2 separate regions of the Homo sapiens genome follow, and region 2 is linked to region 1. Evidence: fine-mapped expression QTL. Tissue or cell type: whole blood. Region 1 holds a variant in brackets; the other region holds the start of a gene. All regions are shown on one strand. Distances are from middle to middle.

What was found. PIP is the estimated chance that this variant, and not a neighbour inherited with it, causes the effect.
Region 2: FAM120AOS starts here. The variant in region 1 is fine-mapped to the expression of FAM120AOS in whole blood (TOPMed, PIP above 0.99).

What each region holds. Positions count from the first base shown.
Region 1 is chr9:93,469,389-93,484,456 of GRCh38, forward strand. It overlaps FAM120A (family with sequence similarity 120 member A), which reads left to right. Exons shown (of 18, transcript NM_014612.5): 2 at 1,753-1,999; 3 at 6,868-6,950. Among named protein-coding and RNA genes, the nearest start is that of FAM120AOS, 23 kb to the left of the region's middle. RefSeq lists enhancers at 1-48, 13,137-13,637. The variant C/A (reference allele first, on the strand shown) is at 8,554.
Region 2 is chr9:93,450,119-93,465,186 of GRCh38, forward strand. It overlaps FAM120AOS (family with sequence similarity 120 member A opposite strand), which reads right to left and starts at 3,463. Exons shown (of 3, transcript NM_198841.4): 1 at 2,029-3,463; 2 at 361-481. The coding sequence starts at 2,591. It overlaps FAM120A (family with sequence similarity 120 member A), which reads left to right and starts at 1,567. Exons shown (of 18, transcript NM_014612.5): 1 at 1,567-2,271. The coding sequence starts at 1,798. RefSeq lists enhancers at 1,047-1,596, 3,176-3,305, 3,369-3,663, 10,457-10,956 and silencers at 1,177-1,706, 1,847-1,976, 2,277-2,456.

The DNA.
Region 1 (15,068 bases):
AAGGGAGTGGTCACTTACTGTCTCCTTTCATTTTCGTGTCTCTTAATAGAGTGTACAGACTTAACTATTAAAGATGTCTGGAAAAAAGCCAGTAATTTCTAATGATTTTAAAATAGTTTAAAAATCACTGTAAATGTAAAGTTGTACATAATAAAAAGATTTGAGGTAAAGAACTTGGATTAGAAATTACCATTTCTAGAAGTGAGAGGATGAAGCAGGCCTAATTTTGGATTTAAAAAAAATCTATTCTATTTTAGCTGGTATACAGTGTTTTTAGATTGAGGGATAAAACAGCATTTCTTATTCTAAAGAATAGAATGTTATTTGACTGATTGGATGTTGTTTGGTTTTTTTCTTATTAAGTAAAATGTTTTTATGGAAATGTTTACCGAGAATTCAGAAAGTAATTTCTTCTTTTACGTATGCATCTTGAAAAGGTTTGCTTTGCCTCTCAGTGAGATTTCATTATAGCTAACCTTCCAACAAAATGTGGCGACTGCTTTTATTATGAAAGTTGGTGAGAAGTGAGGTCCATTCTACAGTGATGTCCAGTAGAATTTTCTGACGTAGTGAGAATGTTCTGTGCTGTCCAATTAGTATGTTAGCTTCTGGTCTCCTGTGACCACTGAATACTTGAACTTAATTTTGAATTTAATTTAATATAAACTTTCTCTCAATGTAGCCACACATTGGACAGTAGTTTTAAAAACTTGGGGTTAAGGGTGGCACACATTTTTCTCCTCCAAGGCCCTGTGGAGAGTTAATACTCCATTGTTATTGGAATCACCTAATTTAGTTTAAAATTCTGTTCTCAAAATTACCTTATCCATTGTAGAAACGAAAAACCTGCCAGAATTTTAGTTGGATTAATGAGTATGTGAAACAGCAGGAGAGAATTTGGTGGTCTTGGACTGTAAATCATTTAGAACATTTTTTCCAGGTGTTTTGGTATATTTTTTGGACTAGAGAGAGCCCAGAGGACTTTGACTTCTCAAAGGTGTTGCTTCTCTGCTTGCTCCTTCGTGTGTTGTGGAAATCCGAGGTATTGTGGATGTTACATTGGGGATTCAGTAGAAGTAAAGAGGGTGTCTTAGATTTTTTCATCATTGAAAAGGCAATTGATATAGACCTAGTCTTGACATAGTGTGTGGGACATAGAATAAGCCTGTGGCAGTTACATTGAGGGTGAACGTGTGCATCCTTGTATGGTCTCCACGTGTGGGAGGCCTTAGGAGGATAAGAACTGGTTGACAGGTAGGCCGAGGGATCATACTTTTATTTTATTTTTTAAATTCTGATGATTTCACCTGACACATTTGATCTACTTTGAAGAAATTGTTTTGATTTCATTGACAGTGGGTGGCTTCTTTCTGTCTCCTTTCTCACAGAACTCTTTATTTTCTTGTGTCTTTCTCCCCCTCTCTTTCTTGAAAATACTGTCATGGGGTCAGCTGGCTTTGTGTATTTTCAAGCAAGGTGATCTTTGAGCTTGACAAGAATTGAAAATTGATTTACAGTCTAGATGGGATCATAAGTTACTGACAGGAGATGATTTAAATGCGATTTCCCACAGAAATTTCTTAGTGGAGCAATGTGTTGCAAACTTTATTATGGCATTTTTTTGACTGTTTGGCTTTCACGGATAGTTTTCATAAATGTGATTTTTCAGCTTCTGTGCAAACATTTCTGCTTATTGAGCTTGTTGCTACAGTGTTACCCTACATCTGATGAAGTTTTTTTCTCGTTTGCCAGGTTGCACAGAGCATTGAGGATCACCATCAGGAAGTGATTGGTTTCTGCAGAGAGAATGGTTTCCATGGCTTGGTTGCGTATGACTCTGATTATGCACTGTGCAACATCCCCTACTATTTCAGTGCCCATGCCCTAAAACTGAGCCGGAACGGGAAAAGTCTCACCACAAGCCAATATCTGATGCATGAAGTTGCCAAGCAACTGGACCTGAATCCAAATCGTTTTCCTATTTTTGCTGCTCTCTTAGGTAGGTGGAGCAGTGTGAAAATATTTTATAAGGGAGTGACCATATGATAAGCACATTGATCTTTTAAGTGTTTCTGTGCTTGAATGTTTTGGATATGTATCACACATTGAAAAGAACCAAGGCGTGGGCTCTTCCTTAGCATTCCTTGCTTCGTATTATTTTTTGGCATAGCTAATGTGCTACTTTTGTTCTTAAGTGTTTGTTGAGGTATTGTTCTATCCAGGAATTGTTCAGATTAATTTTGTGAAAAAACTCATTTAAGGTTTTGGAAAACTAACATTCTAAATCACAGATGTCAACACATGGTCACTATGTAAATTAGACATTTAAACCTTTGACATAAATTATGTTTATAGTAGAAGAAAATATGCTATGGGGTTAGAATGGTTATGTTTTCACCTCATTTTCGGGATACTCACTACTTTAAAAGAGAAACAAAAATAAGCTATCGTAGCTTGTTTCCAACACCTACATTTTAAGTAAATGTATACATGTCTTTAAAAAATTTCCTTGGAGGAATTCCTTATGCTGAATACCCAGAAAGGATGAAATCTTGTTTTAACTATGACATTAGATTTTAATTTTCTTTAATTAAAAATAATTCCCCCACGCCTGTAATCCCAGCACTTTGGGAGGCCAAGGTGGGCAGCTCACCTGAGGTCAGGAGTTTGAGACCAGCCTGGCCAACATGGTGAAACCCTGTATTTACTAAAAATACAAAAATTAGCCGGGCATGGTGGTGGGCGCCTATAATCCTAGCTACTTGGGAGGCTGAGGCACAAGAATGGCTTGAACCAGGGAGGTGGAGGTTGCAGTGATCCAAGATCGTGCCACTGCACTCCAGCCTGGGAGACAGAGTGAGACTTTGTCTCCAAAAAAAAAAAAATTCCCAAGAAGTAATATATTTGTCTGTCACTTTATATTTGCATTGTGTGTTTTCTTTCTTTGCTCTTTTGTCAGCTACCCTTTCTTATGCTTTCATTGTGCTTGTCTCACCCTACTTTAATATCCAGCTCTAGTTTACTTAGTTTATAAGAATTGTGTCCAAATATAAGTAAACATGTTTTGGAGGGAGGCACTCCTGTGATTAGAATCCATGAATCTGATGGGATTTGGGGCTGTTTTGGACACACAAGGCCAGTTTGGGAAGCTGTGTGGTCTCTAGTGCTCAGTTACTGTGCTCCCTTGCAGTATATATTCTATAGAGGCTAGCAGTCCAATCCAGTCCTGTTCAAGAGGGGATTATATTGTGGATTATTTTTAGAAATGCCTAGTTATCAGAAAGATTTTTATAAACATTCCAAAACAGTTTTACACAACTAGAAATTGTAAGGAGTCACAATTTATTTTTATTTTTTTGGAGGGACTGGTTCTTTATTTCAAAGAGACACTTTTCAATATTCAGTATCAAAACGATTGCGCTATTGATTTCTATTTCTCCCAATCGGTCTCAAAGGAGAGTACATTTTAAGTCAATAAGTTGTAGGATGTATACCAACAGACCTCCTAGAAACCTTACCAGAAAATGGGGACTGGGCAGGGAAAGATTAACTTTAAAAGATCAGCAAACTGCCAGCCCATGGGCTGCAGAGGCTATGCTTTTCAAGTTTTCATCGTTAAGATATCTTTGGACAATTTTTTTTTTTTTTAAATGGAGTCTTGCTTTGTTGCCCAGGCTGGAGTACAGTAGTGTGATCTTGGGTCACTGCAACCTCCACCTGCATGGTTCAAGCAGTTCTCATGCCTCAGCCTCCTGAAAGCTGGGATTACAGGCGCCCACCACCACGCCCGGTTAATTTTTATATTTTTAGTAGAGACAGGGTTTCACCATGTTGGCCAGGCTGGTCTTGAACTCCTGAGCTCAAGCAATCCACCCACCTCTGTCTTTGCTGGGATTACAGGTGTGAGCTACCGCGCCCAGCCTTTTTTTGTTGTTGAAACAGGTTTTTACTCTGTTGCCTAGAGTGGAGTGCAGTGGTGCAATCTCGGCTCACTGCAACCTCCACCTCCCAGGCTCAAGTGATCCTCCCATCTCAACTTCCCAAGTAGTTGGGACTACAGGTGCATGCCACCACATCCGGCTAAAGTTTTTTGTGTGTTTTTGGTTGAGACAGGGTTTCATCATGTTGGCCAGGCCGGTCTCCAACTCCTGAGCTCAGGGCGATCCACCTGCCTGAGCCTCCCAAAGTGCTGGGATTACAGGCATGAGCCATTGCGCCTGGCCACATAATTTTTTATATGTTATTTTGTGAAAGCATTTCATGTTTTACTATATGAGTCAGTCAACAAAATTGTGATTTCACAACTTGTGTTTGTTTGGATCTAATCTCAAATACAGTGCTTAGTAAGGGAACTCTTGTGCCTTTGGGGATTTGGGGATTAAAACGAATCTTTTAAATATATTTTCAAATATTAAAATATAAAAGGATATTTCCTCTGATGTTAAAAGTGAGTATGGGGGTGGCACATTATATGGAAAGTTCCATGTTTGCTTAAATGCTATGTAAAATAACTTGGCATATTAATTGACTTTGAATGTGAAAATCATATGCTCTTAGAATATGGATGCCTTAGCTCATTTGAAAAATGGAAGAATACTTGTTTATCTTGTTTAAGAAACATTGAATATGGTATTTGGAAGATGATGCCAACTGATACTTTTCTAGCTTGTTAGTTTGTGAAGTTTTGAAATAAATGAAAAAATCAATTGCAATATGTTGTCAATTTAATTTAGGGCTTGCAATCTCTTCAAAAAGTTTAGTGAAGTTATAGGTAAGCTCCTAAGTTTTTGTTGTTGTTGTTGTTGTTGTTGTTTTTTGAGATGGAGTCTCTCTCTGTTGCCTAGGCTGGAGTGCAGTGGTGCGATCTTGGCTCACTGCAACCTCTGTCTCCCAGGTTCAAGCGATTCTCATGCCTCAGCCTCCCGAGTAGCTGGGATTACAGGTGTGTGCCACCGCACCTGGCTAATTTTCACCACGTTGGCCAGGCTGGAAAAGTTTCACTGTGCTCAAATGAGAAAGCTTATTTTTCTTTTCCCTTCTGTAATGGAAAGTATAGCTATATAAAGTATTTTGTTTTAGGAATGTTGGAATATTCATTTAAGTATTTCACCCCCCAATTTTTCACAGGGACTGTTACTAATGTTGGAGTTGCCTTAATATTATTTCGAATTGAAGCTTCCAAAATTTCGGACACTTCGTTCTTTTTTTGTTTGTTTGTTTTTTGAGACAGAGTCTTGCTCTGTCGCCCAGGCTGGAGTGCAGTGGCATGATCTCGCCTCACTGCAAGCTCCGCCTCCCAGGTTCACACCATTCTCCCACCTCAGCCTCCCGAGTAGCTGGGACTACAGGCAACCGCCACCACTCCCTGCTAATTTTTTGTATTTTTAGTAGAGATGGGGTTTCACCGTGTTAGCCAGGATGGTCTCGATCTCCTGACCTCATGATCCGCCCACCTTGGCTTCCCAAAGTGCTGGGATTATAGGTGTGAGCCACCGTGCCCGGCCAGACACTTCATTCTTCACCGTGAAATTCTATGCAATCCATTAACGGGAAAACAATATCAAGCCAGCAAACCTGAGCAGTTACGGTTCAGATTTGCTCATTTGGACATCACGGGAGTTCAGTACCTCTGGCTTGTGTGTTTGTGTGTTTGGAATACAGGTGGAGTGTCCCTTATCTGAAATGCTTAGGACCAGAAGTATTTTAGAGTATTTGCATATGCCTAATGAAGTATCTTAAAGATGGGACCCAAGTCAGCATGAAAGTCATTTATGTTTCATATATACCTTATACACATAGTTTAAAGGTAATTTTGTAAAACATTTTAAATAATTTTGTGCAGGAAACAACATTTTGACCGCCTTTTGACTGTGACCCATCTTATGAGCACAGGTGTGGAATTTTCCACTTGCATCATGTTGATGTTGAAAAAGTTTCAGATTTTACATCAGATTTTACAGACTTTACATCATTTTGGACTACGGATGCTCAACCTATATTATAACGTAGCAATATTCCAAATGGTCTTAGTTTGTGTTGCATTCTGTTAGTAGCAAATTAATGAATTTGCTATCATAATGTGGAGGTGATTAAGTAATGTTATAAAAATCATGGTTATTTAGGAAATTACTGCTTTGAGATTTCAATGAGATAGCTAACCTACTAAAGATCAGGTATACCAGGCATACGAACATTATTATGAAAGTAGAGTATTACCCCCAAATATAGTTTCTCAATTGAATACAGTTTTGTTTGTAGACTGTGACAGCACTGGTGATAGGATGAGCAGCTTAATGGCCTCATGAGTATTACTGTAGGATGGGCCTTTTCACATATGTTTGTGGGTGGTGATGGAAATTATGGGAGAAGGGTGTTGATTCATGTTACAATCAGCAGTCATTGTCATTTAATCTTGCTAAGAAAGGTTTTATAATTGTGCAGATTTCACATTTGGTGTTTTTATGTAATTTTGAACCGTAGCTATTTCATGAACAGATGAAAGCTTGAACCATAGTCATTTCATGAACAAATGAAAACTTGAATCTAATTGGTATTTGATATCCTGACATTGTCAGACTGACCTTTTGCAAACTGGTGTTTATTTTTAATACTGTGCTGTGAAGTTGTTTCAGTTTTATGCAGTTCTTAGGTTGAATGCTGTTGGGACTGCACTAGAAATTCCCGTCATTCTTGAAGCAGCTGCAAAGATTCTGCCTGCTGTATGTCGCTTTATGTTAAGAGATGAAGATTTGTTCTCAGTTTCTGTTTGAAAGTTTTCTACTATAGGTGACAATATGCAGCACTTTTGAAAGTTTCCCTATGTTACTTAAGATGATTGCTTTTATGTTATCCATGTTTATATTCCAGGAAATCACATTCTGCCTGATGAAGATCTGGCTTCCTTTCACTGGAGTTTACTTGGTCCAGAACATCCACTAGCCTCACTAAAGGTACAAATTTCACTTTATTTTTCTAGCATTTGTAATAATCAACTGTGAGTTTGCTATTACTTTAATAACATGTTAGGCCCTTTATTGGTGATGCTACAAAGTTAGCAATACCATGTTTTCCCATAATTTCAGGATCTGCACTGCCTTAAAAAGCAAGCAACAATGCTACCATCCCTTGTTCTCAACACCTATATGTTAGGTAAATGTATAAATGTCCTTGAAAATTTCCCTTAAGGAATTCTTTGTGCTGTGTACCTAGATAGAAGGAAATCTTTGAGCTGATGTTTTATATATTAATTTTCTTACTTAAAAATTTTAATTTTGTCTTTAGGTAGTATAGTTACTTGTCACTTAGAGCAACATCTTTGCATAGTTGATAAATTTCATAACTAATTTTCTACAATTATAAAATAGTTTATAAAGCTTTTTGGATGATGAGGGAGACTCAAATGGAAGTGATCCATTTGTACTATTTTATTAAAACTTAATATTCTTTTTCTCCCTTTTGATTCCCTTCCTGTTTGTGATAGTAATAAACATCAGAGATGAGGCACTTAATTCTGATTTTCTGCAGTGGAAGTGTCTGTGTTTGATGTGAGCATAGGAGTAATGAGTGAGATATGCACGAGGCACTGGAAAACTTCAGCTTGGACTTGTTAGTGACTCCTGTGATTGTAATGATCATTTGTCAGTTCAAGTGCCTTTCTTGACTTGGGGAATTAGGAAGATGGGGACCTAGACTTTGTATCTGCTTCCCACCCTGGGACTGCTTCCTTACAGTAAAGAGTGGCGGTTAAATTGGGTGTTTTCCGAAGGGCTGTAAAATTTTGAATGTTGTCGTAATTACCCTCCCTCCATAAACAATTTTAATTGGTGGCTAGTTTCAAATGGGAGTTTTTCTTCCTACATTTTAATTTACCTTTAACTCTGGTGATACCCAAAAGCTGAAGTAGAATTCCTTTCCTCCTTTCATTTTGTTCCCTGCTGTTTCATCTCTGGCATGCTTTTTCTTTTTCATCTCTGGCATGCTATAAAATGTTCTCCTTTTCACCCTAATGGGGTTTGGTATGGACTGTTTTCAACTTCTTGTTCAAAAATTAGTTTTTCTTCTCTTGTTAGAAATTACATTTCTGGCCATAGAATCCCTCCTGTATGTTTTCATGAATGAAGTGATGTGATCTGTCATTCGGACTCTAAGCTTCTGGTGATGCCATGATTGAAATGTGGATTGGGGAAATGCAGCGTGTAATCAGCTGGACTTAAGAGCACTGCACCTGTGCTCAGTAGCTCTGTTAAGCATTATGCTTTTGTAAGTGAGACACAAATGAAAGCTTGTTTCCTACAAGATTTATTTTGTTTTGAAGAGCAGGAGTGAGATACTCCCAAGGTTTCTGGCTATATGTGTATGTCTAAGTTAAACTAGCCCTGCTTCATATGTCACAGGGTTAGAAGTGAAGAGCTGTTTGAAGAATTATTGGAAAACCAGCTCAATCTATTGCCAAGTGAATAACATCATTATATGTGTGTTTTTCCTAAATTTTGTTGAGAAAATCTTTAAGTATTGAAATGTGGAAAGAATAGAGAAATGTGTATCCGTATATCC[C/A]CCATCTTGGTTCAACAATTATAAACATTTTGCCATAAAGTATATGTCTGTGTTTTGTTTTGTTTAACAAAAACTATTTGGAAGTAAGTTGCAGATATGACACTTTACCCATGAAAATGTCAGCTTGCTCCACCACTTCAGCTTGCTCCATCACTTCCTAAAAATAAGGACATTTTGATACTTTATCATATTACTCCTATGACATCAACTAAATTAATAATTCTTTAATATCTTTTTTTTTGAGACAGGGTCTTGCTCTGTCACCTGTGCTGGAGTGCAGTGTCTAATATCATTTAATATTAAGCCCATATTCAAATTTTTTCAGAGTCATTTATAGGTTTTTTTTTTTTTGATCGAGATCCAGTCAAGCTTTATGCATGCATTTTGATATTAGCTGAGTACTTTTATGGCATATTGGAGAAGAAATCCTAAATTATTTTTCAGATGACTTGATACGTTGTAGGATTTTAAAGTCACACATGAAATGCAAGTGCACCTGGTTTTGAGATAAGTTCAGAAATTGCATTTGTTAGCCACTTTAATGTTTTTATTTGAGACAGAGTCTTGCTCTGTCACCCAGGATGGAGTACAGGGGTGAGATCTCGGCTCACTGCAACCTCTGCCTCCAGGGTTCAAGTGATTCTCCTGCCTCAGCCTTCCAAGTAGCTGGGATTACAGGCGCCTGCCACCACGCCAGCTAATTTTTGTGTTTTTAGTAGAGGCAGGGTTTCACCATGTTGTCCATATTCGTCTCGAACACCTGACCTCAGGTGATCCACCCACCTTGGCCTCCCAAAGTGCTGGGATTATAGGTGTGAGCCACAGCACCCGGCTCACTTTAATGTTTTGACCCTTCATTCACATTTTTGTATGCAGCACCATTTCAGTGATTTTAATATACATAGGGGAAATTGGATGTGGTTTTACTCCCCATGAGCATGACTGATGGATGTGCTACAGAATTGTATGTATCCCACCTGCTATTTTAGTCTCTTTGTTTTTCCCCAGTTGTAAAACCAATTGCATCTTTTGAAAATTTGGATAGTTGTTACATATCTTCCATAATATTCTGAGTTTTATTTTCTGAAATATTCTTTGTGTTTTTGTATTATGTTGAAATGATGAGAGGTTTAAGATTAGGGTATTGCATTTTTTTTTTTTTTTTTTTTTTTTTTGAGACGGAGTCTCGCTCTGTCGCCCAGGCTGGAGTGCAGTGGCGGGATCTCGGCTCACTGCAAGCTCCGCCTCCCGGTTTCATGCCATTCTCCTGCCTCAGCCTCCCAAGTAGCTGGGACTACAGGCGCCCGCCACTACGCCCGGCTAATTTTTTGTATTTTTAGTAGAGACGGGGTTTCACCGTTTTAGCTGGGATGGTCTCGATCTCCTGACCTCGTGATCCGCCCGCCTCGGCCTCCCAAAGTAGGGTATTGCATTTTAAGAGGTGCTTTGAATTGATTAGATATTAACTTCATAGAACACCAGCCCTCTGTGAACAATAATAAATTTGGCTTTGGCAAAATAGTACAAATATAATATGATAAAAGGGATGGACCAAGGAGGCTTAAGCTTGAGGATGCAAAGTCACGTGTCCTTAACAGCTATTTTTCCAGTATACTCTGTTAGAAAGGGAACCAATAAAAATCATGAGAAAATTTCATCTTTTTACCATCTGATGAAAATCACAAAATACCATGGATAGGAAGTCATCAGTAGTCGATAATTTATGTGATTCCAAATCTTCAGTATGTTGGCAGCACTATGAATTTTTGTTTTCTTTATAAGTAGCATCCTTAGACTCATCTTTTAAACATGTGTCTTTACCAATTTCACTACATGCATTCATTCATTCACTGTAAATTTTTAACTCTCTGACTGTCATCGAACCAGCTACATCAGTTAGAAATTGTGAAGTCCTCCCTGACTGTCCACAGCCCTGGTTGTGTTGAAAGAATAGCACGTCTGCTTTGGGGCTCTGCGGGCTCAGAAGCACAAGGGAGAACAACTGTTAAATCATTGGGTAATATCTGCAGAGAGGAAAGCTAGGATGGGAGCCAAATTCTGTTTTGTCCTGCCTTATTAGTTAGTAGTAGATCGTGCTTATTACTAGATTATGAATGCAATGTTAGACATACTCAGAACCTAAAATTGGTAGAAGACAGTAGGAAATAGGATGTAAGGTGACTTCTTCATACCTCAATGGTAACCTTAAGAGCTGCTAGTAAGGTGGGCATTGAATTTCTTAGGTTTAGATGCAAAGACTACTTCATTTATGTTCAGAACACTTGGGCCATTTCATGTAACATGTAAAATTGTAGGATGGGGTTAGGGGTCAGATAGCTTCTAAGATGTGGTCAATTCTATAATGAGAGAAAGAAAACAAGAGTTATGTGTTACTCCCTATTCCTCGGGAGACCTGCTGTTGGGATTCCTTGCTGCAGTCCCGGAGATGCCTGGAGGCTGGGCTGGAGTGCGACCTCTGTCTCTACCCAGGCCCAGGTCCTGCAGAACAGGGAGCCTGGCAGCAGATGATACAGAGCAGGCTGGGCCAGGATGGGTAAAACCCCAGGGCTGCACAGACACCCAAGCCTGAGGCTGCGTTTATCTTACTTTGCTCTAAGTAAGTTACTCTGTTTGATTGGAAACATAAGAGAATCTTTTATGTACCTGGAAGAGTTGAGATACACTCCTGGAATGCCTCCCAAACAATGGGGAAGGCATTCCAGGAGTGCATCTCATTTCCTCGCTCATTTAAACTTTTTCCAATGGCAATATTTCTTAAAAGGGTCATATCTTTAATAAGGAAAATACATTGAATATCCTTTCAATGTGTTTTTGGACTCAGTGTTATAATTAGGAAGATTTGTGATTGTATTTACAGTAATGAAAAGTGGGCTGGATGCATATTGGTCTTTCGAAGAGGCTCCCACTGTTTGTGTTGCTCTGGGCCGCTGTGCTCCTTTCATGGTTTTAGTGTGGCTGGCAGTGTTGCATGAGAGAAATGGAAGGCGTCAGGCAGCCTGGTACCCAGAGAGCTGAGCCTGCAGAGCATGGGCTCCAGTCCCAAGCCCAGCCTCTGTTTCCCTTCAGGTGGTGCCCCCATGCCTGCCTCCTCCTGTGCCCTGGGAGTGGCTGGCCATTCGGTCTGCCTGGACATAAGGTTTAGTGAGCCTGTGGGTGCCCTGCATAGCTGGTGTGGCCTGTACTCATCAGAGGCGGCCTGCGGCTGTGGCAGTCCACCCTGGGCAGGGCCCCCTGGCTGTAGACATGTGCTAAGTGAGCAGTTTTTCAAAATGTGACTTTTGGGGTTTTAAAAATTGTATGATTTTGTGTCCTAACTGGTTACGGGAATTTTTTATTTTGGGTGGGCATTTTGTTGTTTTAATTTTTAAAAATGTTTTATAGATGTTTGCTGGCTTTATTTTTTTAAAAAAACATGTTTCTTGTTGCCTCTGGTTTTCTTGAATCTTGGGTTTTTAAACACTTTACAGAAGGCTTTTTGTCACTTGGGTGTTCTACATCCTATTGACCTCGTATTTGGGTATAATAACATTTAAGTTGGACCTGTTTAGTTTCAGGTCATTGTATTCATTTTAGTGGTTTTTGTGTTCCTTAACTTCATATTCAATTTCATATATTTTGAGTTTCCATCCATGCCAGTTGTTTGTGATGGCCAAGTATTCCCAACCACTGAGCCCTTCGAGCTCCTTTTGCCTCCTTGTCTGGGACACCCCAGCTTGCAGATTTTATATGGACTGATCCTTTCCTGAGACTTCACTACCAGCAGTTCTACTTTCTAGTTAGGTTTAGTCGGTTTTACTCTGTTTACACTGCAGTTCCCAGTCTTTTTGAAAGACCCCTTTTCTGCATGGTGAGCCTCCCCTAGAAGTACTTGTCCTCCCCCAGCCCTTTCTGACCCCATCAGCTGGTTATCCTAGGGCCAGGCTGGGTCCTGGGCCAGGCTGCACCCTCATTCATGGAACGCCATCTTCTCTGTATGATCCTCTCTTGGAGCTTCCCCTAAAGTACTCTTCTTGCTTTCTTCTACATCATCTTAGGAGCTCCCTCTAATTCCTAGCCCTGGCATTTCTTCCTTTTGATTTAAATGTCTTTGTGTATTTATCACCTTACCACTCTGATTCACTTATTTTGGTAATCTTTTACCAGCATTATCTTTCCCTGAGGCACCCGTATACCGGGGGCAATCTATCAGGCTGTATCAAGAAAACTTTTAGATTCACCTCCATTTTTTTTTTTTTTTTTTTGGGAGACGGAGTTTTGCTCCCTTGCCCAGGTTGGAGTGCAGTGGTGCGATCTCAGCTCACTGCAGCCTCTGCCTCCCGAGTTCAAGCAATTCTCCTGCCTCAGCCTACCTAGTAGCTGGGACTACAGGTACACGCTGTTGCCACATCCAGCTAATTTTTTGTATTTTAGTAGAGACGGGATTTCACCTTGTTGCCCAGGCTGGTGTCAAACCCCTGAGCTCACGCAATCCGCCTGCCTCAGCCTGCCAAAGTGCTAAGATTATAGGCGTGAGCCACTGTGCCTGGCCATTCACCTCGAATTTTTCCCAGGGGTATCTTTAACTATATTTTTTATATCTTATTGTCTTCAACCAGAAGTCATTGAGTGGTACTTTTAAAACATGTCCTTTAGGGCCAGCAGTTGGGTCTGGCTCTGAGAGAGTAGTGAGGAGGGTAGCATCAGGATCTCCAGGAGCAACGATGGTAGGGCCGTCAGTCTGGCCTTCTTATCGCAGGGACTGTGTCACCTCCAGGGTTGGAACACACAGCAGACCCCACAGTGGGCCAGTCTAGTAGACTGGCCCTTTGAGACAAAGAGGAACTGAACAGTCCTCTCTCTTGGGCTTCCCAGATGGACACCTGGGTGGCTGTTGCAGCTGCTGCCCAGCCTGTGGTCCTAGTGACCGCTGTGCATGGTGCCTGTCTCTGGACTAGGGCTAGAGGTCCCAGTAGGTCTCATGCAGTGCCTGGAGCCAGCTTTTGTCCGAGAAGAGCTGTAGCATTTCAGGCACTTTGAGGCTTCATTGTGTGTGGCATTTACCACGTAACCTTGCTGGAGCTAGGTCAGTGATCAGATGACTTGATCTTTCTGAAATCTTTTTTTAAAAAATTAAGTTGGGTATAAACTGTAAATAAATAGAAAGATGAACTTCGTTTATTTCTGACTTTCACCTATATTGTCATAGCAGGAGGGGGTAGTTCTGAATTCTGTGAACCCTCCAAAGAAGGAATTTCTCCTTACATGTTAGTGTTAATTGAAGTTCACTTCATATATTTTTTTCTTAATAAGTCGTTATATTATAATAGTTTAGTAAGAGCTAAGAAAAACTTCCTAAAATCTAAGTACTTATTTAGCTTTAGAAAATATAATATTAGGGGCCTGAAAGGTAAGTAAATTTAAAACATTCTTCTGTTTGTTTGTTTTTTTTTTAAACATAGTCTATTGGGGAAAAAAAGAGAGACAGGCAAGATGACGTAGTTTGACTGAACCCTCTGATTTTGTTAATCTTTGTAGTCTTCATATTTCTGTTGCATTTTTACTGTTTTAGATAGAAGCCTATGTTATCTTTTTAAAAATTCATTTTTATTATAAAAATAATAAGAAACAATTTAATCAGTACAGAAATATGTCATGTGAAAATGAAAGGTACTTATAATCCCACTTCTCGGAGATAACCACTTTAGACAGATTGATATTTGATCCTTCGAAGTGTAATAAAAATGTCTGTCTTGCTAGTGGTGCTCATCATTGTCACCATCATCATGCATGTGACATTAGCTAAATGTTCTTAATGGTTAATGTATACAGATTCATTGTACTGGATTTTAAGCTTTTAAGTCTTGAAAACCTGCATTTAATAAGAAATTTGTTATTTGCTCCTTTTAATTTATATGTGGAGTTGTTAAATGAAATAATTTAAAATACAAACTGAACTCAAAAGGATTTCTGCTTGTTCATATCTTCCAGTCTGTGTCCTCTATTGCCTGTTTGTTTTAAAATAAAACTGGAAAGCTTAGAATTCTGAGGAATCTGCTGGAATCTCTTGGGGCTCAAGAATAGTTTTTCTGTGTCTCTCTTTTTTTTTTTTTAAGAGACAGGGTCTTGCTCTGTTGCTCAGGCTGGATGGAGTGCAGTGGCTGTTCACAGGTGTGATCATGTGCAGTACAGACGCAAACTCCTGGGCTCAAGTGATTCTCCTTCTCCTGCCTCAGCCTCCCAAGTAGCTGGGACTACAGGTGTGCGCCACCACACCCAGCTTCTGTCTTTTATTCACAGATTAGGAGTAGGTCTCCAGTCATATTGCTGGGAAGAAAGGGATACAAGTTGTGGGAGGTTTATGCTCCTTCCTTGTTACAGGATTGCTTTTAGTTTGGCTCCTCCCATGGAGTGAGTGGGACTGCCAAGCAGGATTCTTCCTGATTGACCTGGAATGGACGACCCTGCCAGCAGGAGCAGGAACAGAGGCCAGCAAGGGAAAGACAAGACACAGTCTG
Region 2 (15,068 bases), 19 kb before region 1:
TGGGATTACAGGCGCACACACCACCAGGCCCGCCTAATTTTTGCATTTTTAGTAGAGACGGGGTTTCACCATGTTGGCCAGGCTGGTCTCGAACTCCTGATCTCAAATGATTCACCCGCCTCGGCCTCCCAAAATGCTGGGATTACAGGCGTGAGCCACCGCACCTGGCCTGTATTATTTTTAGATAACATGTCATCCTGGCTTTGTGACTAATTTTATGCATAGGTGAGTGGCATAACTTGTCAGCCTGCTTTTAAATGTAACTTCCTAAAATACCAGCAGCATTTAATTTATGTACGTATGATACTGGCTTGCATTTGAGGTGGGTATCAGAAAAGAAAGCAGAAAAATCCAACTTGCCTTTTTCACCGGGAGTATGGGGGCTTCTTTGGCCAAACCGTGCGCGTGCAGGCTCCATGTGCTGGGCAGCAGCTGTCCGGCCACAGCCTGTCGGTTGCATCCTGCTCCTCTACAGAGGTTTCTCCAAAAAAAGAACAAATGGAGAGATGAAGGTAAGTAAAAGCGGCACTTTAAAACTTTTAGAGTGCTGGGTTTCTAAATTTATATTCTGAAAGACATTAATCTCTTTTTGAAAATGTTTTATGCAAGCCTAATATACATACAGTATCAACCTCATTTTAGAAGCAGTTACGACAGAGCTTTGGAACAGAATTTACGTAAACGACCTCCTTCCAGAAGATGCTACTAAAGCAACAAGATTCAAATCCCTCTCCCTCAGAAGAGCTGGGAGATCCACTGCAAAGGCGCACGTTTCAGTCTAGCCATTGCGCAGTGGTAACGCAGGCTTTCCCACGCTGCAACAGACCTGTGCTCTCAAGACAGTCTCTTCCGTGACGAGCAGGCGCTTAGGGCTACCTGTACCTTCAGACATTATGGTGTGTTTGGCCATGTCATTTGTCATAGGTGTAAAAACCACAACCGAGAGCCCGAAGCTGCTGGGATGAGCACCTGCCGCGGAACTGCATTCTCGCGCTCCTTCCTGCTCTTTCCAAGAAGCCAGGCGCGGCCGGCCAGCATCCCGCTCTCCCGGACCCCGCAGTCAGTGTGGGCAGCAGGCCCAGAGTGGTGCGAGCCGACGGCGGCGTTAGAAAGGCGGCGTCCCGACGAACAGAGTGACTCGGCCTCGGCTCCCCTTCAAAGCGCCATCTTATCGCTGCTTCCCTCAGGAGCAGGCGAGCTCTTCCCCAGGACCTGCTTCGCGGCTTCCCTTCGCCCGAGAACCACCGGGCGGAGGCGGCGGCCTCTCTGGCCCTGCCGGGAACAGGGCGCAGGGGAGGGGAGCGGCGGCCGACCGGCCTGAGGCGGGCGAACGGCCTCTGGCCTCCAGGCGCTGCCTGCTCCGGCTCAGAAGCCTCCCGGATCCCGTCCCGGCCCAACTCCGGGCCTCCGCCTCCGCCGCCGCCTCCGGGAGCCCCGAGCCGCGTCCCGCCGGCGCCGCCTCTTCCGCCTGCTAGCCGGCGGGCCTGGGCGGCGTCCGCGCCGGGCGGGTCCGCTACGTCAGCGCCGCCCGCCCGCCCCGCCCCGGCCCTCAGCCTCGGCCTCGGCCTCGGCCTCGCAGCGGCGGCAGCGGCGGCGGCGGCAGGTCCCTCCCCAGACATGGCCCTGGGAGGCGGCAGCACATGGCGGCCGCGGCGGCCATGAGCGCGCCCCCGACCCGCCCCAGTCCCCCCTAGAGGCCGCCGCCCCCGCCCGCCAGCCCGCCCGCGCGCCACGGCCCCACCACCCCCGGCCCCGCCGCCCCCCGCCCGCACCCGCGCCCGCGCCCCCGCCGCCGCCATGGGCGTGCAGGGCTTCCAGGACTACATCGAGAAGCACTGCCCGAGCGCCGTGGTGCCGGTGGAGCTGCAGAAGCTGGCCCGGGGCAGCCTGGTGGGCGGCGGGCGGCAGCGGCCCCCGCAGACCCCGCTGCGCCTGCTGGTGGACGCCGACAACTGCCTGCACCGCCTCTACGGCGGCTTCTACACCGACTGGGTCAGCGGCGGCCAGTGGAACCACATGCTTGGCTACCTGGCGGCGCTGGCCAAGGCCTGCTTCGGCGGCAACATCGAGCTCTTCGTCTTCTTCAACGGCGCGCTCGAGAAGGCCCGGCTGCACGAGTGGGTCAAGCGGCAGGGCAACGAGCGCCAGACGGCACAGCAGATCGTCAGCCATGTCCAGAACAAGGGCACCCCGCCGCCAAAGGTCTGGTTCCTGCCGCCCGTCTGCATGGCCCACTGCATCCGCCTGGCGCTCATCCGCTTCCACGTCAAGGTGAGGCCGGGGATCCGGGCGGGCCGGGGACCGGGGCCGCGCCGCACCCCTATCCCCCTTCCCAGGGCGCAGAATGTCGCCCGGCCGTGGCGGCGCTGGGGGCAGCGAGTTCCCCCAGCCCTTGCCCGGGATAGCCTGGCCGGGCCGGGCTGCAAGATGGATGGCCGCGGGTGCAGGCCGCGCGCTGCCCAAGCCCGTCTCCAGCTGTCCCTGTTCGGGGTCCGCGGCCGCGTGGGGACACTTGAGGGCTGGGAGAGAGCCCCGGACCAGAATTCGGAGGCGACAGTGTCATCATCCCCAATATCCTTAGTTTTTCCCATCCTATTTGAGGCGGGCAGGCTATCACTCACCTTCAACTTTGACAAAATACTCCCTTTTCTAATTTAGCCTGTTCTTTCCCAGCAACAGGTTCATCTTGGAAGCAGGCAGGATACAGAGTAATAGAGGGGGTTTCGCCAGAGCCCTTGGGGGCTGCAAATATCAGTGCTGCTGCCGCCGCCCTTGCCAATGTTGTTAGCCCGGTGACAGCGAGACGTGTCTAAGGGCCAGTGCCCTGGCCTCTACTTCAGAACGCAGTGCCCTGTCCGTGTTCCTCTTAGTACAGGGTGTTTAGAGAATCTTTCTATGGCTTTTTGTGTTAGATTTCAAAGACCCGTGCACTTTGACAGGATGGGATTTTGTCAGTTCTGTGACTTCACGTCCGTGTGAAAGAGGTCTTTAAGGCAGTTCGGTTTTGTAGATCCCATGCGAAAGGAGTCGCTCAAAATCAGGGGGCGAACTACGCGGGCGTGAACTCGCAGGATTTATTTTTCGGGTGCACAGTAAGTATTCAGTGACCTTCAGCGGTGCCCTGACGGGTGGGTAATCAGAGCTCTATATCACCGGCCTCCTCTGGCCCTTTGGCAGAGGGCTTCGCAGCTGGCACTGGGCCAGAGGAGAACTTCAGGACCCAGCAGTGACTGTGAAGATAAGCACATCCATGATCCTGGACTTCACGTTCTGATTGCTTGCTTTTTTCATTGGTTTTCTTGAAAACAAATTTTGGGGGCCTTTTTGTTGTCTTAGCTCTTGACACTCGGTCTTCCATCTTGTCATTTGACATTTCCTTGAAACTGCTGGAGCTGAAAGTTTGTGAAATTCTGTCTTCGCGGTTGCCCCCACTGCCCGCGAGGAGATGGTGGTAGTTAAGCCTAAAATGATAGCGGAAGTCCCACCCACGATCCGGTTGCAATTGGTGAGATGGTGTTTAAGTCGTGGGTGGAGGCGGCCGGCAGAGTCCCGATTGGCCCCTGCGCCTGGCAGACACACAGCTGCCATTCCTCAGGGAAGTTCGGGTGAGAGGAAGTGCCTGCCTTTTAATTTCTGAATCGGAGCCTGGGGCGCTCAGGGAAGTAAGGTGCTGCCATTTGTCTGAAGCGATCCATCTCCCTAATAGAGCGTAAAAGTGTTCATAGTTTAGTCTTGTTCAGAGATGGAAAAGACTACTTAAAAGACAGGATGAGCTGCACTGACTTGCCTTTGGTAACCGCACAGCTCTCTACTTAACTAGTCAAGCGACTTTCAAGGGAACACTGTGAATATTACTTAGGATTAGAATCAGTATGTATGCATATGGTCACTGTATCTTTAAAGAACTGTTGAGTTCTTTTTAATTCTACAGTTTCTTTATCTTTGCACCCCTTTGAATGCCTCGCACACCTAGTAGGTGCTCAGAATTCAGACCAATGTGTCAGTGTTAGGAAACTAGATTTAAGCTCCATTTAAGATCGTCTTTTTCACTTAGGTTTCTGGACACGGGATAATGGGATAATTTTGTCTGTATTTTGCTTTTGCTAAGCTTTTAATTATTGACCTAGGGTCATATTATAGTGCGAATTGCACAAAATGAATATTGTAATAACTCAATTACTTGGTGGTCTCTTAGCTGGCAACCTTACCTTTTTGAAAAGTGCCTAAGAGATTTAGCTACTAGAAATTTCTCAGCAACCAAGCAAGATGTCAGGAAGTTTGGGTACAGTGATGTGGGGGGTTGGCGGGTGTAGGGGGGTGCTTTTGCTTTCCTCACTGAAGAATCCTTTAAGCTCTCTCACTCATGGACTGGCCTCTTTTCATATGTAATTCTAACAAGCTTGGTTATCTATTTTCTAAACTCAGCTTGAGAAGAGGATGAAGAGGAGAGTCTGCCAGAGGCAGGAGCACCATTAATAGCAAGAAGTGACAAGAGAGATTTAAAAAGCTATAAAAAGCAAACATAATTCTGGGGCTATTTTAAGAAAAGGAAAACAACCCTATGTACTTCCTTGGTCCCTGAGGGTAGTACAATGTTTATTCTATAAGGATGATTTTGAGTCATAAAAATTAATATTCAGCATTCTCTGTTTAAGGGATTGAAACAGTGTATACCATTTAATAAAAGATACCCATAAAGTGGTTAAAACGTTTAAAACCATGATATCACTACATGCCTATTAGAATGGCTAAAAGAGAAAAAAATATGAGCAATACCAAGTGCTAGCAAGAATGCTGAGCAACTGGATCCTTACACATTGCTTGTGGGAATGCAGAATGGCACCACCACTCCAGAAAACAGTGGCACTTTCTTATAAAGTTAAACATACATTTATCATACGATCCAGCAATTCCACTCCTGGGTATTTTCCTAATGAAGACTTTTGTTTGTGCAAAAACTGGTACTCAAATGTCCATAGCAGCTTAATTCATAATAGCCCAAACGTGGAAACAAAGTATCCTTTAATAAGTGAATGGTTAAACTACAGTATAGCCATACTATGGAATACTACTTAGCAATAATAAGGAAGGAATTGCTGGTGTAGGTAACAACTTGCATGAATATTTAATTAAGGTTTTATACTGAGTGAAAGAAGCCAGGTTCAAAAGGGATGATTATAAAACTATAGTGATAGGGACCAATTCAGTGGTGCTGAGAGTAGAGGAGGGGAAGGATGTACACATAAAGGGGACAGCAGGAGAGATCTTTGTGGAGTGATGGAACTGTTCTGTATTCTGATGGTGGTGATGCTACCATACATTAAAATCAGAACTATTCATCCAAAGTAAATGTGTTAATTTTATCATATGATAATTTTTTTAAGATTAAGTAAAAACCACTGGCAAAGGAATTGACATGAACAATTCAGTATATATAATGTTGAGTAAATGAGACATTTATAAAAACTTTAAGCATCTTATTGGTGCTTTCTAGTGTTTTGTAAATTGGCAGAGGGGCATAATTTCCTGTTACCTTTGCTTAGAGAAATCTTTTTTTTTTTTGAGATGGAGTCTCACTCTGTCTCTCAGGCTGGAGTGCAGTGGCGCGATCTCGGCTCACTGCAACCTCCACCTCCTGGGTTCAAGCGATTCTCCTACCTCAGCCTCCCTAGTAGCTGGGATTATAGGCGCCTGCCATCATGCCTGGCTAATCTTTGTATTTTTAGTAGAGGCGGGGTTTCACCATCTTGGCCAGGCTGGTCTTGAGCTCCTGACCTCGTGATCCACCTGCCTCGGCCTCCCAAAGTGCTGGGATTACGGGCGTGAGCCACTGCGCCTGGCCAGGAGAAATCTTTTTTGATTTAGAGATTATTTCTTTTACAGAGTAGTAATTGTATTTTTTTGTTCAGTAGTAGTAATTGTATTTCTTTAACCATTAGAAGTTGGTCTACATGGAAAGACAGCCAGAACAATGAAAATAATAATACTTTGGCCTATGTATTGACTAGTTTTGTGTAGGTCCTAAAATAGCCTAATTTGAACTTGGCTTTAGCTAGTTACTTGGACAGTGTTTCTTCTTGTGTGCCTTGGGTCATTATAACCTTTGAAACTTCAGTGAATGACTTATGTTTATTTTAAAATCTTAGTGGCATGAAGTCACTGGAGCTTTCATAAATGTTTCTGCTATATGACTTGTGGTATCAGTGTAAGGGTTTATAATAAAGTCCTTCAGATCTTCTGAATTTGCTTCCATTGGAATTTTGTTAAATAATGCTCTTACATAAAATGGCGTTCATGCTATAAGTCAGTGGAAGAATGTGAGGTTAGACTATGGTTTAGAATTTTCATGGTTAGCATAATTACATGTTTGTATTTAGAGATGATGGTCTCCCTTCATGTATACTTGATGGGGGAAGAGAATGAACTGGTATCAGACCAGGTGCTTGCTAGATCCTTTCTCACATATTCCATCTCATTTAATCCTCAGAGTGCTTTGTTACCCCATTTTTCATGTGTAAAAACAGGATCTAGTGATTAAGTGACATCTGGGGACAAGTCATTAGTAACCTCAAGACGGAAGTGGAGTGCTAAAGTCAAAGTTCAGCTTCTTTGTGTAAGAATACTTTGTGGGTGTGCCTACCTACAATTCTCACCCCCAGGTCAATTACGATAGCTAACTGCTTCAGCTATGTTTTCTAGTTAGGATAGGAACAGTCATGTTGCTATTCAGAAGAAAAATGTCCATCAGTAGATCCTGGACACTGACAGTACATCTTATTCTTAAGGACCTTTAATTGACTGGAAGATTTTTAAGGTTCAAAACTGACCATATTATACCTCAAACTAGTCACTGTATATATTTCTCTGTTGTACTACTTTTGTCACTAGTTTAATTCACATAGCATAATGTCTTCAAGCTTCTTTCATGTTGTAGATTGTGTCAGAATTTCCTTAACTTTTAAGGCTAAGTAATACTCCACTGTGTATATGTACCACATTTTGTTTATCCATTCATCCACTGGTGGATACTTGGGTTGCTTCCACTTTTTGACTATTGGGAATAATGAATAATGCTTCTATGAGCATAGTATACAAAGAGCTGTTCGAGTTCCTGCTTTCAGTTCTTTTGGGTATATACTCAGAAGTAGGATTGCTGGGTCATATGGTAATTCTGTTTTTCTTTTTAAGGAATGGCCATATATTTTCCACAGTGGCTGTGTAGGCCATATATTTTATGTCATAAGTTATATAATATATATTATTATAATATAGTTCCATTTTTTCACATTAATGTGATTGCACTATACGTTATTCAGCAGTTTGCTTTTTTATTTGTAAGAAATCTTTCCATGTCTATACTTAGAGCTCTAAGTCTTTTCAGTCCCTAAATAGTATTCCATAATTTATCCAACCCCGACAGATGGTATACACATGATATATACACACAGTAGAGCTAAAGGTATGCACATTTTAAAAGCCACGTAGGACCATAGAGTCAACATTACCAGAACTTCAGACTTTGCAAGAAAGCCAGAAACCCAGATTTTTAAAAAAATTATTCCATTTTAAAAATGCCAAGCGAAGGAAAACTTGGTTCTAAGTTAGCTTCAGCTCTTGTGCCACCAATTTGTTATTTGAGCACTGATCTTTATCAACAATTATCATGGTCATCTAAATCTCTTCCTTTTTTTTTTTTTTACTTTAAAATTAAACCTATCAAAAACCACTCTGTCTTTTCCTGTCTGCCTCCTTGAACCTTTTTCAATGATCAAAATGCTTCCATTTCCTGGGGTTACTGCAATATGATGTTTCCTTAAATGCCACAATCCTCTTGGCCACTTCCATAGTATATTCTTCATTATATACTTCTCAATATTACATATTTTGAGGTGAGTGCTAACCCACATGTTTATTTGACATCTCACCATTTCCAAGGCACAGCCTCACTGTCCTCAAACACTTCAGCACCTGGTTTTACATTCTTATATATTATTTATACTGTGTCCCATCAACACAGACACTGACTCTTCACCTCTCTCATCTGGCATCCTGATTCTGCAACTGGAGTGAATTTCTAATTGCACTTTAGATACTCCAGAGCTTGGACCGTATAATTAGTGAGAAAAGTGACCCCACCTTTAACACTTCTGAACGCTGTGTCCCTGTCACTCCTTGCCGCTCCCACCGTCTGTCCCCTGCTTGCCTTCCGCCATTTCTCTTTTCCCATTCTGTTGGCTTCCTTTTTAGCTGTAACTAGCTTGAACTTCATGATCATTCACTTCAGAGTTACACCCTCTACCACCATAGAGTCATGCTTGGTATTCCAGCATCCCATCCTCCCAGTCCCTAGAATAATGACACACCAGGCCAATTCTGGCTCAGTAGTCTCCTACTTAACTGTTATACTCTTCCTTTTTTCCAGTACCCCCAACATTTGAATTCACCATATTTATCCAAAAGGTCGAAGAAATGCTTTGCAAACCCTTCAGTGGGTTGTGAAACCAAATTATTGGATGTTTGCCATTACTTAAAAATAACGGAGTAAAATAGAATGAAAAATAGAATGCAAGGCATATACTATAGGTAAATTCCATGTCATTACACTTTTGTATTACTGTGGGTAGCAGTAAGAATGGCCTCTGCACCTACCCCCGCGCCCCAGTGGAACTAATCTTGCACAGCTTTGGCAGGGTAGACGGCCACATCTTCAGGGAGGTCACTCTCCTGTTGGGACTTGAACAAAACCATTAAGTCCAAATTCCTTATTCAGACTTGTAGACCTTCCTGCGACCTGAACTCATTTGACCTTACTTAATGTTTCACAATCCCTCTACTGTACTTTTTAAAATGTTCCCAACCCAACTGGTCACTATTTCCCCAAGAAATATCCAGTTTCTGCTTATGTCATTCCCTCTTGTTTAACTACTGTACTGTGTCCTACTTTTGCTCATCAAAATTTTACTTACACTTCAAAGCCCATGTCAAATGCCAGCCTTCTTCATGGAATCTCTTGATATTTGAAAAAGTGGACTGGGAATACACACACAGCATGGTGTATGTTTGCAGTGGACATTCTAGTCTGTTGTATTGCACCTACCTGCATAACTGCATATTTACCTCCCCCAGCCACCCGTAGGCTCCTTGAGGCCAGGGACTGTTTTACTCCTCTTGTACCCCATTATGCTTAGCATAGGCACTCAACTCTAATCAGAATATTTGCTGCATTCCATTATATAGCCAGACAAATTAAATTATTTCAAAATCTGGATCAATGGCCATTACTTAAGTTTTGTTTTGTTTTTTTAATCTTAAATTTCTCATACTCTCTTTTCTGACTGGTTCCCAATGGTGATTGATTCTCCTTTCAGCAAATGTTTGAGCACCTGTTAATGCCCAGGCCTGGAGGAGTGAACAGAACAGGAAAGGAAGGAAACCTTCAGGGAGCCTATAGCCTCTGGGTTGAGGAGGTTCATTTAAATCCTTTTTTTCTTGTTTGGAACTTTCTTTAATACTGTAGAACAATATGTTTACTCAGTGAAGACCTGTGAGTGGCTCTCAAGTAGGGTTGACAGTTGAGACATTTGGCAGGGGACATTTGGCAGTGCCTGGAGGCATTTTTGGTTGTCACAGCTGGGGGAGGATGTTAACTGAAGGCATCTATTGGGTGGAGGCCAAGGATGCTGCCAAACATTCTACAGTGCACAGAACAGCCCCCATAGCAAAGAATAATGTGGCCTAAAATACCAGTAGTGCCAAGGTAAGGAAATCTTGGTATGAGCAAATCAAAGAATTATAAGCTTTATGCCTTTGTAAAGTCATATAAATGTTTGCGATAGAGATGTCCAAGTACACCAGGAAGAAAGTAATCAAAACTACAACTTAATTTTCTGAATCAAAATACACGCAGGTATACTTCCTCCTATGTCTAACATGTTTAGATCGACATTGTTCTTCATTTTAGTTTTCTGAAATTTATATGAATAGGAAGAAACTAATTAACACATATTACACATTCCAACCTTAATAAGCACTACACCATAGGAATAAATGTCAAATATCGCGTAACATGAAGAAGAGAGATTTTAGGATTTGAAAACTTAGACTACTTTCCAGTAGATTTATAGGCAGAATTTTCTAAATAAAACAGGCATTTAAATGAATCACAGTTCAGATAAAAATATTCTTAAATTATCTAAATGTCTCCATATAGTTCATCGTTTATTTCCTTTTCGCTTTTTTTTGAGATGAAGTCTCACTCTGTTGCCCAACCTGGAGTGCAGTGACACAATCTCAGCTGACTGCAACCTCCACCTCCCAGGTTCAAGTGATTGTCCTGCCTCAGCCTCCCAAGTAGCTGGGATTACAGGCACGCCATGCCCAGCTAATTTTTGTATTTTTAGTAGAGACAGGGTTTCACTATGTTGGCCAGGCTGGTCTCGGACTCCTGACCTCGTGATCCACCCGCCCTGGCCTCCCAAAGTGCTGGGATTACAGGCATTAGCCACTATGCCTGGCCCTATTTTTGCTTATTTTTATGTTTTCTCTAGAAGTAAATCTGATGAAGACCTTGCCTGTTATCCAGCTCTTAGAGCGATGCTTGGTGTGTAGTACATGCTCAGAAAATATTTGATAAATGGATATGAATCACCAGTTACAGGCAAGGAAGTGTGATGGCAGAAAGATGGTAGGAAGCAGAAGTTTTAAAGTCCCCCTAGAGTTAATTCCAAAATCACTGGTGTCAGCTTGGCCACCTGGTGCAGAGCTTTTATCTTTGAGTAAACCTTTTATGCTTCTTAACTTAGGAGATGTGTTGAGGGCATAAAATGGGTGACTGCTTCAGGAAATGGGCTGCATTTAGCCACCTTTCCTCTTGTTACACCTGGCTTTATCACACATTGTTTCTAGGCATCTTAGGGGACAGTGTAAAAGAGTTGAACTTGACCCACTGCAGTATTTGTAGAGGTGATGGTCAATCTGCATTATGGAGTTTAGGATCTGTGATTTAGAAACGGTACTTTTATGCGCCAGTCATTTGGCATTTCTCAGTTGTCTCTGGAATCAATTAACTTTCTTGAAAGGATGAATTTACCATGTTGGTGTTTTACTGGTTAGTGCAGGAAAGTATACTAGAGGGTTTATTGCTGGAGGGTTGACTTCACAGGTCTGAAGTACATCATTCATCCTCTGAGGTAGAGCACATTTATGAATAGTAGTAACAAGCCAGCCCAGACTGTTGGAGGGGGTCACTAGACTCCATGGATGAGGTGTTTTAATTTCCTGGACCTATGAAGAGTTTGCAAGTGTTACTATCTTGAAATAAATAGTATCAACCTGTGGTTCTTTTTCCTAAATTATGAAAATTGAAATTTTATGTTTTAGATTTTGGAATGGTATTTTAATAAGAATGATATTACTAGGATTTAGCTGAGTCATTAGATTACTAGAGTAGGCTAAATAGATTCTGAATACAAATAATGTGTGTGTTTCTTCCTTTTATCATTGTATTTTTTTATTTTTAAAGTTTGTAAAGTTTAATTTGCATTTCTTTTATGACATCACTCCTTTATTATTATTAATATTTTTAGAGGGAAAAATCAAGCAGTTTTATAATTCGAACATCCCAAATCTGAAATGCTCCAAAATTCAAAACTTTTTGAGCACCAGCATGATGCACAAAGGAAATGCTCACTGGAGCATTTTGGATTTTTGATTTTTGAATTTAGAATGTTCAACTGGTAAGCATAATAACAAATATTCCAAAACTTGAAAAAGCCTGAAATCCAAAACACTTCTTGTCTTAAGTGTTTCAGTAAAGGACACCTAACCTGTATTATTGAATAACCATTGAACCAGACTGTGATCACATCACAAGCAGTGTGTGCTAAAGAGATTGCGAAAGCCAAAAAGAAGTGTCACCCTTTGATACAGCCTGGCAGATACAAACTATTACATACATCCTAATTGTCGTTAATCAAAGGAAAAGGAAAACTCTGCCTTTTTACAAGTAGGAAGTTAATTTTGGAGCCAAAGCACCTAGGCCTTCTGAGAAGACAGGGAGATACCCTTCTTTTTATTATTATTGTTTCTTAAAATTGTGGTAAAATACACCTAACATAAAATTTACCAATTTAACCATTTTTAAATGTACAGTTCAGTGGCATTAAGTATATATATTTTTTTGAGATGGAGTCTCGCTCTGTCACCAAGGCTGTAGCGCAGTAGCGTGATCTCAGCCCACTGCAACCTCTGCCTCCCGGGTGCAAGCAGTTCTGCCTCAGCCTCCTGAGTAGCTGGGATTACAGGCGTGCGCCTGCCACCACACCCAGCTAATTTTTGTATTTTTAGTAGAGACAGGGTTTCACCATCTTGGCCAGGCTGGTCTTGAACTCCTGACCTCAAGTGACCCACCACCCTTGGCCTCCCAAAGTACTGAGATTATAGGTGTGAGCCACCACGCCTGTCCCCGGTGGCATTAAGTATATTCACATTGTTGTATAACCATCACCACCATCCATTCCCAGAATTTTTTCCTCATCCCAAACTGGAACTGTGTACCCACTAAACTGTAATTCCCCATTTCTTCCATGCCCCAGCTCCTGGTAACCACCATTCTCCTCTCTGTCTCTGAAGTTGTCTACCCTATGAGCCTCATATAATGAGATCGTATAGTATATGTAATTTTGTGTCTGGTTTATTGCATTTAACACAATGTCTTCAAGGTTCATACATGTTGTAACGTGTCAGAATTTCCTCCTTAAGGCTCAATAACATTCTGTTGTATTGGATAGACCACATTTTGTTTATCCATTCATCAGTGGGTGGACACTTGGGTTTCATCCTTTTTGTCATTGTAAATGGTGCTGCTGTGAACATGAATGTACCGACATCTCTTCGGACCCATTTTTTCAACCTGGAAGTGTAATTGCTGTATCTTAGGGTAGTTCTGCGTTCAGTTTTTTGAGGAATCACCATACGATTTCCCAAGAGGCCACGCTGTTTTACATTCCCACCAGCAATGCACAAGGAATCTGTTTTTCTCCATATATTCTTGTTGACATTTGTTATTTTCTTTTTTTTAAAAAAATAGTAGCCATCCTAATGGGTGTGAGGTATTCAGTGTCTCATTGTGGTTTTGATTTATATTTCTGTAATAATGAGTGAAGTTGAGCATCTTTTCATGTCCCACTCCCTTATTTTAAGAAATGTTTTTCCTTGTTTTTAAGATCACTGTACCCAATTCTCATTTATTCTAAATGAGATATATAAGATAAGCTTATTCAGCTATGATTTCAGCTTACCTGAAGAGAGAGATTTCTTTTTAGAGGCATTGCTGCTATGTGTCATAACATTTAAATTGCCCTTTAAACAGCAACAAAAATCTGCCACCAAATTGGAGTTGACTTTTTTTAATGTTCTTATTCTTCAGTTGGACTAGAGTAGGGAACAGAAGCTTCAGTGTTAGTTTTTCCCATTTCATACCTATTGACTGCCCATTGGGAAGAGGCTGAAGACTGCCTTTTTGGTAGTTGTTTTTTAAAACAAAATAATTTAGGTGGACCTATACGCTCTTATGTCAGGTTGTTTTATATCTTCTAAATCAGCTAGCTGGCTGGAGGATGTGTCACATTGTTCCCTGAACTGGTGTAAAATTATTCTGAAGAAAAACCACATTAACGGTATGTTTTCCTAGTGTCAGAAAATGTATGTATGAGAACCCATAGTGTTTCAGGTCCTGTGTGAAAAGTATAAAGAAACCTTTTTACATAGCTTCCTTAAAAGTACATAGTAACTGACATTTGTCAAGCGCTTATTATTTGTGAATGCTTCTGAGCTGTTTACATGTAGTATATTTAATCATCGCAGCTACCCTATGAGATAGAGGAATACTATTATTCTTACAGATGAGGAAATGGAAGTACAGAAAGTATTAAAGTAGGCAGTGGAGTTCACCTACCTGGTGCCAGAGACACAAACCTCATTGTAGAGTGTTTTTTCACTGGAAACTAGGAGTAAGTAACAGTGTCAAGTTTTTCTTCTTATGGGGTCTTCCTGTAGCTGTGTTTCAGAATTAATAAACAATTATACTTGCCAAGTAAGTTTGGGAGTTTTTAAGTCATTATTCTTTGTAAAAGTCCTGAGTTTTGATATATCTGCCTTTTTAATGATGAAATGTAAAACTACTGAGATAAAAAGATTTACCTAGGTATATTTGGTAAATTTATAGTGGCATAAAGTTATCATTGTAAATCGAAGTACAGAGTACTTTCTTGAGACCAGAAACGGGCCCTTTTGCCACTTCTTAAACTTGTCAACACTAATGACACCTACCATATTTCTTGGGGAGGGGGTAGACAGGGAGGAAGAAGCTGAGAAGTGTTGTGATTCCCATCCTGGCTGCCCCAGGTTAGAGTGTTGTATTGGACACTAGCCCCCTCATCACTTCACAAGAGCTGAAGCCTAATGCTCCTCGGGGTTGTTTACAGAAGGAGTTTTAGAGTTTCACTTCCTTGATCTTGAAGCCTGCATTTTGATAGAGTGGAAATGGTAGCCATGACAAAAATTAATCAAGGCCTGGTGCTTTTAAAATGGCAGATACTTTCAGTGGCTACTAGCCTGGGACTTTCAGCAAGGAGGCAGCTCATAGTTCGAAGTCTGATTTACCTCTGGTGGATGACTTTACCCCCTTTGAAGGGCTACCTGTAAGTAAGTGTTTTCAGGGCTTAATTTTTTACGTCATTTTGTTCTTCGAGGGGGTTCAAAATCAAATAATCTGAACATTGCGTTTAATAGTTTTAACCCACTTCTGAAATTAACATTAAGAACTAGAAGTACACATTTCATTGTATTATGCCCAGTCCAAGCCAGGCATTGGAAGGCCAGGGAAGAGAAGAAGCAGATAAATAAGAGTGAGAGAGTAGCTTAGTATAGGAGAAGGGAAAACAGGAAGGAGCTTCAGAAGACCAGATGAACAGCAGGGGAGCTCAAGTCTGTCAGACCAAAGCTTCAGCCCAGTACTTAACGTTTATTCTTAATTAAATAACTGCCTTGTAAGTTATTTTGATGCAACC